2 separate regions of the Homo sapiens genome follow, and region 2 is linked to region 1. The links come from fine-mapping of genetic effects on gene expression. A gene starts in region 1. The other region holds a variant in brackets. All regions are shown on one strand. Distances are from middle to middle.

The links. PIP is the estimated chance that this variant, and not a neighbour inherited with it, causes the effect.
Region 2: its variant is fine-mapped to the expression of CORO2B in whole blood (TOPMed, PIP above 0.99). The same link has a PIP of 0.9 or more in blood mononuclear cells.

The regions. Positions count from the first base shown.
Region 1 is chr15:68,576,537-68,581,536 of GRCh38, reverse strand. It overlaps CORO2B (coronin 2B), which reads right to left and starts at 2,544. Exons shown (of 12, transcript NM_006091.5): 1 at 2,260-2,544. The coding sequence starts at 2,274. RefSeq lists an enhancer at 1,489-2,356.
Region 2 is chr15:68,628,778-68,634,293 of GRCh38, reverse strand. All of the region lies in intron 1 of CORO2B (coronin 2B), which reads right to left. Among named protein-coding and RNA genes, the nearest start is that of CORO2B, 53 kb to the right of the region's middle. The variant A/C (reference allele first, on the strand shown) is at 2,603.

The sequences.
Region 1 (5,000 bases):
GGTCACACAGCCTGTTGGTGGCTAATTTAGGACTAGGGGCCAGGCCTTCAGACTTCCAGAGCATGGTGGCTTTCCCTATGGTACTGGAAGAGCTACTACCAGCGGGCTTGTAGACAGCAAAGCAGTCCCCAGTGCCTTTCCTGCATCCCTCTTGCTCTCTGTTCCCCACAAGAACACGCTGGTCTGTGAAGGGCCAGCAAGGGGAGAGAAGATAGGGTTAAGGTGGGGATTTTATTTAATCCCCTGAGCTTGCTTAAGCCAAAGCCACATTGGTTAGAGCAGGAGGTGAGCGACATGGAGGGTTTGTTGGGGGCTGGGTATGGGGGTGGAGGAGTGTTGAATAGTTACTGGATACCAAGAAGCTAGGCCTGCCAGTGGGCTTAACAGGTAAGCACCCACTTTCATGGACTCCCTGTCCCATCCCTGCTTCAAGGTTCAGGTCTCCAAGCAGTGCTCCTCTACCATGGAAGTCCCCCAGTAGCCAGGATGCCCAACGATGCAGAGCAGTGCAAAGATCACTGGCCATAGATTGAGACAGACTTGAGGGCAAACCCCAGCTCTGCCACATACATGCTGTGTGACCTCAGGCAAGTCATTTCACCTCTCTGAGCCTCAGTTCCTTCCACTGTTAAAGAGAACTGAACACACCTTCCTTGCAGGCCTCCAGGGAAGGAAGGCTGCATGAGCTCGCGCACAAAAAGAGACACAGGGGAGGCGCTGAGTTAATCCTCAGCGCTATTATTAAAACCTCACACCCTTTCTCTCTCTAGCCGGGCCCATCCATTACTCCTCTGTCCCAGCCTGCTTGCATCTTTGACATTAATAACCTTAATATCCCTCCCAGCTGAATAGCATTTGCATCATTTCAAAACCCTAAGCATCTTACCCCAGGTGGGCCACAACAGCCCTGCCAGAAGTAGCCAGAGCTGAGGAAGCCCCTGCACCCTCAAGTTCATCTTCTCACAATGCTCCCAAGTCCCAGAACCAGGGCCAATGGCAAAGTTTGGAGTTGGGCCCAAGAATCCGCACAAACATTCAGTCTTGGGGCAGACCTCAGGAGGGCAAGGGTAGGCCCTGGCTTACCAGAAGGAGCCAAAACCACCCCACCTCCATCACTTGCACCCCAACCCTCCATCTGGCCCCACTGCTCTGACCCTCCATCTGACCCCACTCTGGGCTGCCGGTCCCACTTTGGCCTCCAGCTCCCCAATTCTGGGACCCAGCTGGGCAGCTGGAAAGGGTGGAGTCTGGCCCTTGAATGGACGGCCAAGCCCGAGGCCACCGCCAGACTGTGAGCTCAGTACCCAGACAGATCTCTCTGAAGAGTGTGGGTTCACACCCTTGATGTTATTGGTTCTTTAACAGCCTGTCACAACCCAGGACCCATATTATCACCCTCACAGCACACAAGAAGAAACTGAGGCCCAAAGTGGACCCCTCCCCGACCAAGGTCATCCAGGGGATCTGGGATAGAGCTGGGATTGAACTCAGGTCTCCCTGGTCCCTTGACCCTGGCACTTTCCACTGCCCCATCATCTTTCCTCTTAACTCTTTCCTCCCTACAACTAGGAAGCCCCTGAAGTCTCTCCAATAAACGTGGGCCCCTATGACAAGGCCCAACAATCATCCTCCAATATGGGGGCTGCCAAGATGCCCACCTTTGCTTCCCCTGTCACATTCCCTCCCCACATCTTCAAGCCAACCACCTGGACCTGCCCTGTCTCTGGTAGCGGCTCCCGGGACTGGGCAGCGCCTTCTGCACAGAGTGGCTTTGGAGTGGAGCCAGCGCTCCCGGCATGGGCGGCAGAGGCTGGCAGGTGGGGTGGGGTTTCCCCTCCGCTGGCCTCCTCGGGGCGGCAGGCCCATCCCCACACCCACTGCTCAGCACCAGCCCCTGCCAGCGACGCTTCCCGCCGCGCACTCCCTGGAGGGACACCGCTAGCCGCCCAGCCCAGCTCTCCAGGGGTTAAAAATGCAGCATCCCAAACAAGGGTTAAAAATGCAGTCCCGGGGTTGGGCCGGGCGCGGAGGGATGTTGGCCAAACCGCCGGGGCTGCCAGAGCGGCATCCTCCCCCTGGCCTCCGCAGTCCTTGGGGGCCGGAGTGACTCGAGCGGATCCGGCAGCAAGAGAGGCGCGCGCCGCACCTTCCCGGCACCGGCGCCCCCTCCCCACACCCACACCCCCGCGCCCCCCGCAGCCTAGCCCGGGGGATGCAGGCGCCGGCGGGTCCCGGGCGCGGCGGGCGAGCGGCGCTTACCTTTGTGACAGTCATGCAGAAACTCCGCGGCGGAGCGGGGGCGCGGGCGCGGCGTGCGGGGGCGGCGGCGGCGGCCCGGGGCGGCGGCGGAAGGGGGTCCGGCAGCTCCCGGCTCGCTCCCCGCGCCCCGCCGGCGGCTCGGCCGAGCCTGGGGGCTGCGCTCCGGGCGGGCAGCGCGCAGGGACCGCTCGTCGGCGCTCGCCCGCCGCTCGTCGCTGATGTCAGCCCCGAATGTGCATTTATAATAGATGAGCCTCCTTCGCCGCAGGAAGGCGAGGCAGGAAGAAAGGGAGAGAGGGAGAGGGCCCGGGCTGGGGGGCGGGGGGAGGAAGAGGGGCCGGGAACTCGCTACAAAGGAGGAGGCGGAGGGAGGAGGAGGAGGAAGCGCAGCCCGCCAGCGGCCGTGCCCCGAGCCTCCCGCTCGATCGCCGGCCGCCGGGCACCGCTGCTCCCGGAGTCCGGACGGGCGCCCGGGTCCGCGGCCTTAACCCCTTCGGGCCTGCGGACGCCACGCGGCTGGGCGAGGCTGGCTCCCGGCACCTGCCGGCTGGGAGAACGGGCGGCGCCCCGGGCTCTCGGGTGTCCCGCTGGCCCGGGGACGCTGGTGAAGTCACAGGCTGGACGGCCGAGGCGCTGCGCGGGCAAAGAAGGCGGTCGGGTTCGCCCCCTGGAGGCTCGCAAAGTCGGCCCGTGGGCCGTGAGTGTGGCGCGGCGGGCTGGGAGGGGCGTGGCAGCCGCAAGCCCGGGAGCCCTGCCCGCACCCCCACCTCGCGCTGGCCCGGGGCACAGGGTGGCCAGACGGATTTGTGTAAGCACTCTTTCGAATCTAATTCCCGCCGCGATGACTTGCCCGAAGGCCGCCTTAGTGAGTTTTGCAGAGGAGGAAACTGACGATCAGAGTGGGACGGACGTGGGAAGTGACTTAGACCACAGCACAGGACCTGCCTGCCCGAGCCGTTCCTCCCGCTCTTTCCACTCGGCCGCTAGCTCCCTAAGGAACCTCTTGTTATAGAAGCTGCCCTGCCCTAGGACTGTCTACACTACCACTGAGTGCCGCTCTACTGGTGGAGTGATAACACAGGTGCGTCCTGTGTGTTGATCCAATCCTGACTCGGGGCACAGTGTGTCCTGGAGCTGCTGCGGAGATTTGAGGGACAGTCACCTGAAGGTGACCTCGCAAGTCTTGAGAAAGGAGTCTCCCTCCCAAGCACCTGAGCAGAACCGGTTTCCGCAGATACAGAACCGCGGAGAGGGTGGAGGGGAGGAGTTAGCAGAGGTGGAAGCAGAGGGGTTCTCCAAGCAGGACAGCCTGGCAAGCCCGGAAGTGCTGGCTTCCTGCTCCACGGTAATTACCGGTGCAATTCACCTGGACAGCGAAGGCAACGTCATATATGAGCACCTGCTCTGTGGAAAGTGCTGGGGGAACAGAGAGGAGATGGGATGCCTGCCTTCCGGGAGACCAGTGTCTAGATTGGAGCAATAATAATAGAGTAACCAGCCTCCAGGAAGTGCTTTGTGGGTCATTGTGCAATTTTTTTTTTTTTTTTTTTTTTGAGACCGGAGTAGTCTCACTCTGTCGCCCAGGCTGGAGTGCAGTGGCGCGATCTCGGCTCACTGCAACCTCCGCCTCCTGGATTCAAGCGATTCTTCTGCCTCAGCCCCCCGAGGATCTGGGACTACAGGAACGCGCTACCACGCCCGGCTAATTTTTTATTTTTATTAGAGACGGGGTTTCACCGTATTGGCCAGGCTGGTCTCGAACTCCTGACCTCGTGATCCACCCGCCTCGGCCTCCCAAAGTGCTGGGATTACAGACATGAGCAACCGCCCCCGGCCCTGCCATTTTTAACCACATTTTCTTGGGAGTCCTAAATGCAACAGTGTGAGGAAAGAATTACCGTCCCCATTTTGCTGATGAGTAAACGGATTTAGAGAAGGGAAGGGAATTGCCCAAGAGCACACAGTGACAGAGCGAGGACTTGAATGAAAGTCTTCTTAAATCAAGCTCAGCATTGTGCTTTGAATCCGTGAACTGCAGGGTCCATTCCTACTTGCTGCCTTATTTGAGTTTCACAGGTGTCTTAGGACATAGGTAGGCAGCTATTCGTTCCCCAGGGGAGTTCCAGGGACTTACTAAATCTCTTGGGTAGCAGATGTGCTGCAGACCTCAGGCGTCTCCTCTGTGCAAAACCCTTCCTAAGGCATCTTCCCACGTTGCTTGCCTGCCAGGAATGCTCTCTTATTCTTCTGCACTAACTCAAACGCATCCCACCTCTCACGGCACCACCTCCTTGCCACCTCTCCTGACAACTCCAGCCCAATGGCTCTCCCTGTTGCATTTAGTTCTGAGGGTCTGGTCTCATTTTCATGAGCCTCTGAGCACAGAGGCATGCCTTCTCTCACTGTGTACCCCTGGGCACATAGTAGGAGCTTAGCAAATATTTAATGCCACCAAGAACAAATCAAGCAAAATATACCTTTAACCTGCAGCAGAGGAAATTTAAATTAGGCCCATGAAAGCATTTCCCACCAGCGAGCTGTCCAGCATTGGAAGAGTCAGATTCCCTGTCTCAGCTGTCTTGGGCAGGTCAGCCTCTAGCCAGAAGGATGGAGCTCAAGACCTTTCCAGGGCCCTTCCAGCCCTAGGACCCCATCGGAAACCTTTAAAGGGCAACTCAAGGACACCAGTCACCCTGCACCCATGGCTGTGACTTGTCTGTCCACTTTTATATCTTACAGAG
Region 2 (5,516 bases), 52 kb before region 1:
ATCCCTCGAGGGCTTTCTTCTGCATTTCTAGACTGTCATGCACAAGATCATGCAAACACCAAGTGCTCAATAAGGGCTGGTGGAGTTAAACCCAGGACTTCTGGTTTTCAGCCCTATTCTCTGTCCACAGCAGGTCCTACTCCTCACCCCCTCCTTCATGGCCTCCGGCTTCTTGGTAGGTGAGGCTGAGCAACTTTTTTAAAAGGCTGTTTCATAGTCCAGGCCAAAGGCTGAGCCGGGGAGATGCCAGGCATAGCTGCCACTGCCGAGGCTCCCTGCCTGTGACATGCCCTGACCGACTCTCAGGATAACCGGGATCCCGTGTTCAGAGTGCCTGGCCTGGCCCCTGGCCCACAGACCAAGACGTTGCTCCCTGTCACCTGGCAATGCAGAAAAAGATGGACTGATAAACTGTCCCCAGGGGAATGTGGTAACTGGTGATGGGCCTTCCCCTTCCCAAGAGATAATCTATCTACATTACAGCCAGGGGATGGCATGGAAGAGAAGGACGATCTGCCGGCTCCGTTGTAGTATCTCTGTTAGAGTAAAAGGAAGCCCATCTCTCAGTGCCCCAAATGTGAGAAAGGAGAAGTTGAAGTTCTTTATATTGCTGCTAATCATTTTGGGTATAAAAAAGGATAGTAAATCAACTTGCCCATAAAGAAATAGATACCAGGCCTCATGCACAGAGCTTACTTGGAGATAAATTCTTTGCACTGTCCACCCTGTGCTGTCCCCAAGGAGTGAGTGTGTGTGTGTGTGTGTGTGTGTGTGTGTGTATGTTGGAGTAACCATTTCCTCTTGGACTTTGGAAACAATTCAAGGGGCCTCACCAGCTGAGGGTCTAGAAACTAGAGCAGAAACTTTTTTTTTAAATTAAACTTAATGGTACTGAGGAAATCAATGGGTTTTTGTTTGAAAACATCCGTGATAACTGTCTCATGATGTTCTCCACCTCTCACTCCCTGCCTTGTAAAAAGAATCCAGTAGTTAATTTAGGACCCAGCAAGGAAAGAGGAGTCTTGCTGGGATCTGTGGCCAACAGTTCCCCTACAATGCCCTCTGTTCCCCCAGTTCACAAGGGAGGCCGCCTCATTCTAGGTGGTCATGTAGCATTCTGCATGACTGTCCAGCACACAGCTCTGCTCCATAGAAGTGACCCACACTCAATGGTGACAGCTAAACCAACCAGCTCCTCCCCTTGAAGGGTTTAAATGTGGGCTACATTGCACCACTAGTTGGTGGCAGAGGCAGAAGCCATAAGCGGAGGGAAGAGAGATGGAGAAGAGGTCAGAGAGGAATGTAAAGGGGATCACTGTAATTTTAAAAATAATGTTAGTGCACTGTTCTGCATTTACTAGGTGTAACCTTCCTGCTCTCCCCTAACTCACATCCATTTATTGGCCGGGTGTGGTGGCTCACGCCTGTAATCCCAGCACTTAGGGGGACCAAGGCGGGCAGATCACTTGAGGTCAGGAGTTTGAGACCAGCCTGACCAACGTGGCAAAACCCCATCTCTACTAAAAATACAAAAAATTAGCCAAGCGTGCTAGCGCGCACCTATAGTCCCAGCTACTCAGGAGGCTGAGGTACGAGAATCACTTAAACCAGGGAGGTGGAGGATGCAGTGAGCCAAGATAGCACCACTGCACTCCAGCCTGGATGACAGAGCAAGACTCTGTCTCCAAAAAAACACAAAAATTAAAAAATAAACAAATGACATCCATTATCCAGGGAGAGTTCGGACTGTTAAAGCAGGACTCAAAAAAATTCACATTCCAACATCCAAGATAGGATTCTGCAGCCACAAAATATCTTAAGAGCCAGAATTGTTGAGAGAGGACGTTTCTCAACTTCTGTCTCTCCGTGTTAGCAAATGAAGAGTCCTGTCTGGCTGACTCCATCACAACTCTACTGGACCGAGCTGAATGCGTTTTATCACTGCTACCTACCAGGTGGGGCTCCTGGATGACACCAGACAAGCTTCAGAGGAAACAAACTTGTATCTTCTTTGCACATCCAAGTTGTCAGGGCTGCCAGCTAAGACCATGAAGGCTGTACCCTGCACAGATGGGCCGTGTGGATGAATAGCGCCCAAGGAGTTATGCCACATGGGGGCCACGGGTGCAGGAGGCACTCACATCACCATCCCAGAGACCCCGCTGCAGCAGTCAAGATAACGGGAATCTGACTACCTTCTAGCTCCGAAATTCCAGGCATCTGAGAGGCCTGGGAGCCTGGGAGGCCTGGCTGCTAGTCACCCTCTAGCCCTGCCTCCCTCATTACTAAAGGTCAACAGAATCTGTTGCTAGCAACCAAGAGAGAGCCCACTCCAGCGATGCTGAGGGATGGCATGTGGCCCTCCCTGGTGGCCATCTGGGGCCATTCCAGCAGCCTATTTACACTGACTGCGAGGAGCACCTCCTCCTGGCAGCTCAGGAGGGGCTGTCTTTGTGCAGGTGTCAGCACCTTCTCTGGTGTAGCTACTGATGTCAAGAGGTAAACGAATTGGCCCCACGGGGTCTCTGACCATCCCATCCCCAGGGACCTACCCTCCCCTGAACACCTGCAGCATTTCCTGGCTGCCACCCTGCCCCCTGGC[A/C]CCTGGTGTGTACTTCAGGGTTGGTTGGTTCTCTTTACACGTGTTGAGATTAACTTCTCCCGGAGGCTGTAAGCTGGGCCCTGGTGTCAGCTCTGAGAGCTGGAATGCACAGGAAGTCTAAAGGTTGCCGACTTCCTGGCTGAGATTCTGGAAGAAGAGAGGACACTGTTCCAAAGTGGGCCAAACAGAGGATGGCTTCACAGACAGACACAGGTTTAAATCCTAGCGCCACCACTTACTAGGTATCTACTGGACAAGTTCATTAACTTTTTGGAGCTTGTGTTCTCATCTGTAAAATGTTACAAAATGTATAACAAGCCCTAGACAAGTTCATAAACTTTTTGGAGCTCGAGTTCTCATCTATAAAAATGGGGGCAACACTGCCTCCTTCTCAGGACAGTCTCCACCCTCTTGGTCTTCCTCACAATGCCCTATACATGGAGACCATCCATAACCCACTGACGGGCAAGTGGCTGGCCTTTGGGGGACATGGGGAGTCAAGCACCACTGCAGAACCCGGCCATCCAGGTGTTCCCTGGGAGCACTGGGACAAGCTCCTGGAGAAGGGAGGCAGGCAGATCTGCTGACTGGACTCGTACCTGCCATTCCCAGCACCCCCTACCCCCAACCGCCCTGCACCACCACGGGAACACCCCTCACCCTTGGGAGAGGGTCCAAGACCCAGTTCTGGCAAGTGAGACCTAGGAGGAAGTCCACTAGGGGGCTTCTGAGAAGGATTTTTGTCTCAGTAAGAGGAGAGAGACATAAGAAAAGTTCTTTCTTGGCATACTGGCACACACACGGCTTCCCGCCTTTGCTTCCATTTGAGGATGTAAATCCTGGCGCTCTGGCACCCATTTTGTGGCCAAGAGGTAACAAGCCTACAACCAAAAGGCCAAAATGATGAGAAGACAGACCACAAGGACAGAAGAGGCCTGGGTCCTTGATGGCACTGTGGAGCCACCGACCAAACCTAGGACCTCCTTCCTCCGCAACTCTTGTTTGAAAAACCATGAAAATCCTAGAGCTTGAGTCAGTCTTGGTTGGCTTTCTTTGTTACTCGCAGCCTAAAGCATTCCAACTGATGGAAATAAAGAAGAAAAGGAACAGGGTAGTAGATCTCTGAGTCTTTGAACACTGCCTGTGACCTGTCCCCATGAGGTCTTTCTGCCCCCACAGCAAAGAACTTTGCTATTTTAAGGAGGCCCAGAGACCACAGAGCCCCACCCAAGCCTAGCAGGCCTGCCCCTGCCAGGAACAAAAAAAAAACATTTCATTTCGAGGTTTTCTCTCATCCCTCAGCACCGTTCCTTGGGGTGTGCTGATGCGGCTGCCCGTGCCTGCCATGCAGTTGCCGGAAAAGTTGCACAGCTCAGGGGATGATAACAATGACCACTTGGGTCGAGGGAGCGATAGTCAAGTTCATGCTGCCCGTTGCACACGACCACCCCACACAGCATCCCCTGGGTCCAGCAACACTGCTGAGCCTTGAAAGGAGATTTTTTCCCTCTTTTTCTTTCTTTATTCAACTGAATGCTGTCATTGCTACAGAAGCCACGAGGAAGAGGGGTGGAGAGGAAAACGAGGTAATGGATGCAGAACATCTGGCACGGTGCCTGGTGGGCACTGAGCAAACACCAGCACCCTCCCTTTTCCCTTCCAACATAATGGCAATGCTGGGTGACAGAACATGGCATCAGGCAACTCCTCCAGGGCAGGGTGCCTCTGGCAGGGGCATTACCTATCCTTTTGGATTCCTGGTTTTTAAAGGACTCTTTCTACTGGGGTGCTTTTCCTTCAAGGTGTCCACTTAGACATAGTGCGTGTGTATGCACACAACACACACACACAGACACACACACACACACACATGCTGGTTAAGAGCCCAAGCTCCTGACTCCACAGCGAGTTGGGTCCCAGTCATGAGGTCAGGGTTCTCAATTAGCTTCTGCCTCAGCCTCGTCCAAGTCCTCCTGATCTGACCCCTACTGAGGCTGCTCGTGTCACTGACCCTCCTGCTGGTCCCCTGACCATTTCATAAGGACATTCAGAAGGCCTGGGAGCTGCTCAGTGCATAGCCTTTCCCTGCACATCGTTTCATCCCCAGCACCTGGGCTCTTTGTTTGGGCCCTCCTGGTTTCTGTGAAAGTCAAAGCTTTGGTTGCCTGAGTACCAAACCACTGGCATAGTCTGGCCTCTGTAAATCTGCCTCTGGGGATAAAGTCTCTCTCCTCACCTCTTCCACTGCGTCAGGACCACTCCAGTCCACAGGGCACGTTTGTGAGAATAGAGAAAGGCGCCTCTTCCTCCAACAGAATCAGCTCCAGGCTCAGTGAGTGGAATGTGGACTGGATTTCAGCCCCCACTTACACCCTGCCAGGTGCCTTTGTGCAGGGCACAACTCTGACAACCACACACAGCAGACCTGCAATGGAGCCTTTCCAATTATTCTCCTGAACTTCTGATCTAAATGCTTTTCTCAGACATTGACTCATTCAGAACTACTGCAGAATTTCCAATGTGGAGCAGCCCCACTGAGGGGGCAACAACTTTGCAAAACTGCAAGATACATTCGGCACTCCCCAGCATGATCCCATGGCTCCCCCAGCAGACCTTGCTGGTCTCACCTTCCTGGCTCTCCTCTGCTAACTCCAAATAAAGTTACAGCATCTCTGCTGTCCAATTACAATTCATTTCTCCCTGCCCCATCTGGAGGCAAATGGCACATGTGTCCCAGGAGACCCAGTGGTCCCTCCCTCCCACATTCTCATCCTGCCCTTTCCCCAGCTTGCCTTATCTTCCACATCACATGGGAAACTGAGGGCATCCCTCTCAGCAGAAAGCCTCTTGTACCCAGCAATGCTTAGCCTCAGGGAATGAATGGAGAGGCTGGGTGAGTCCATGTAGACTCCGG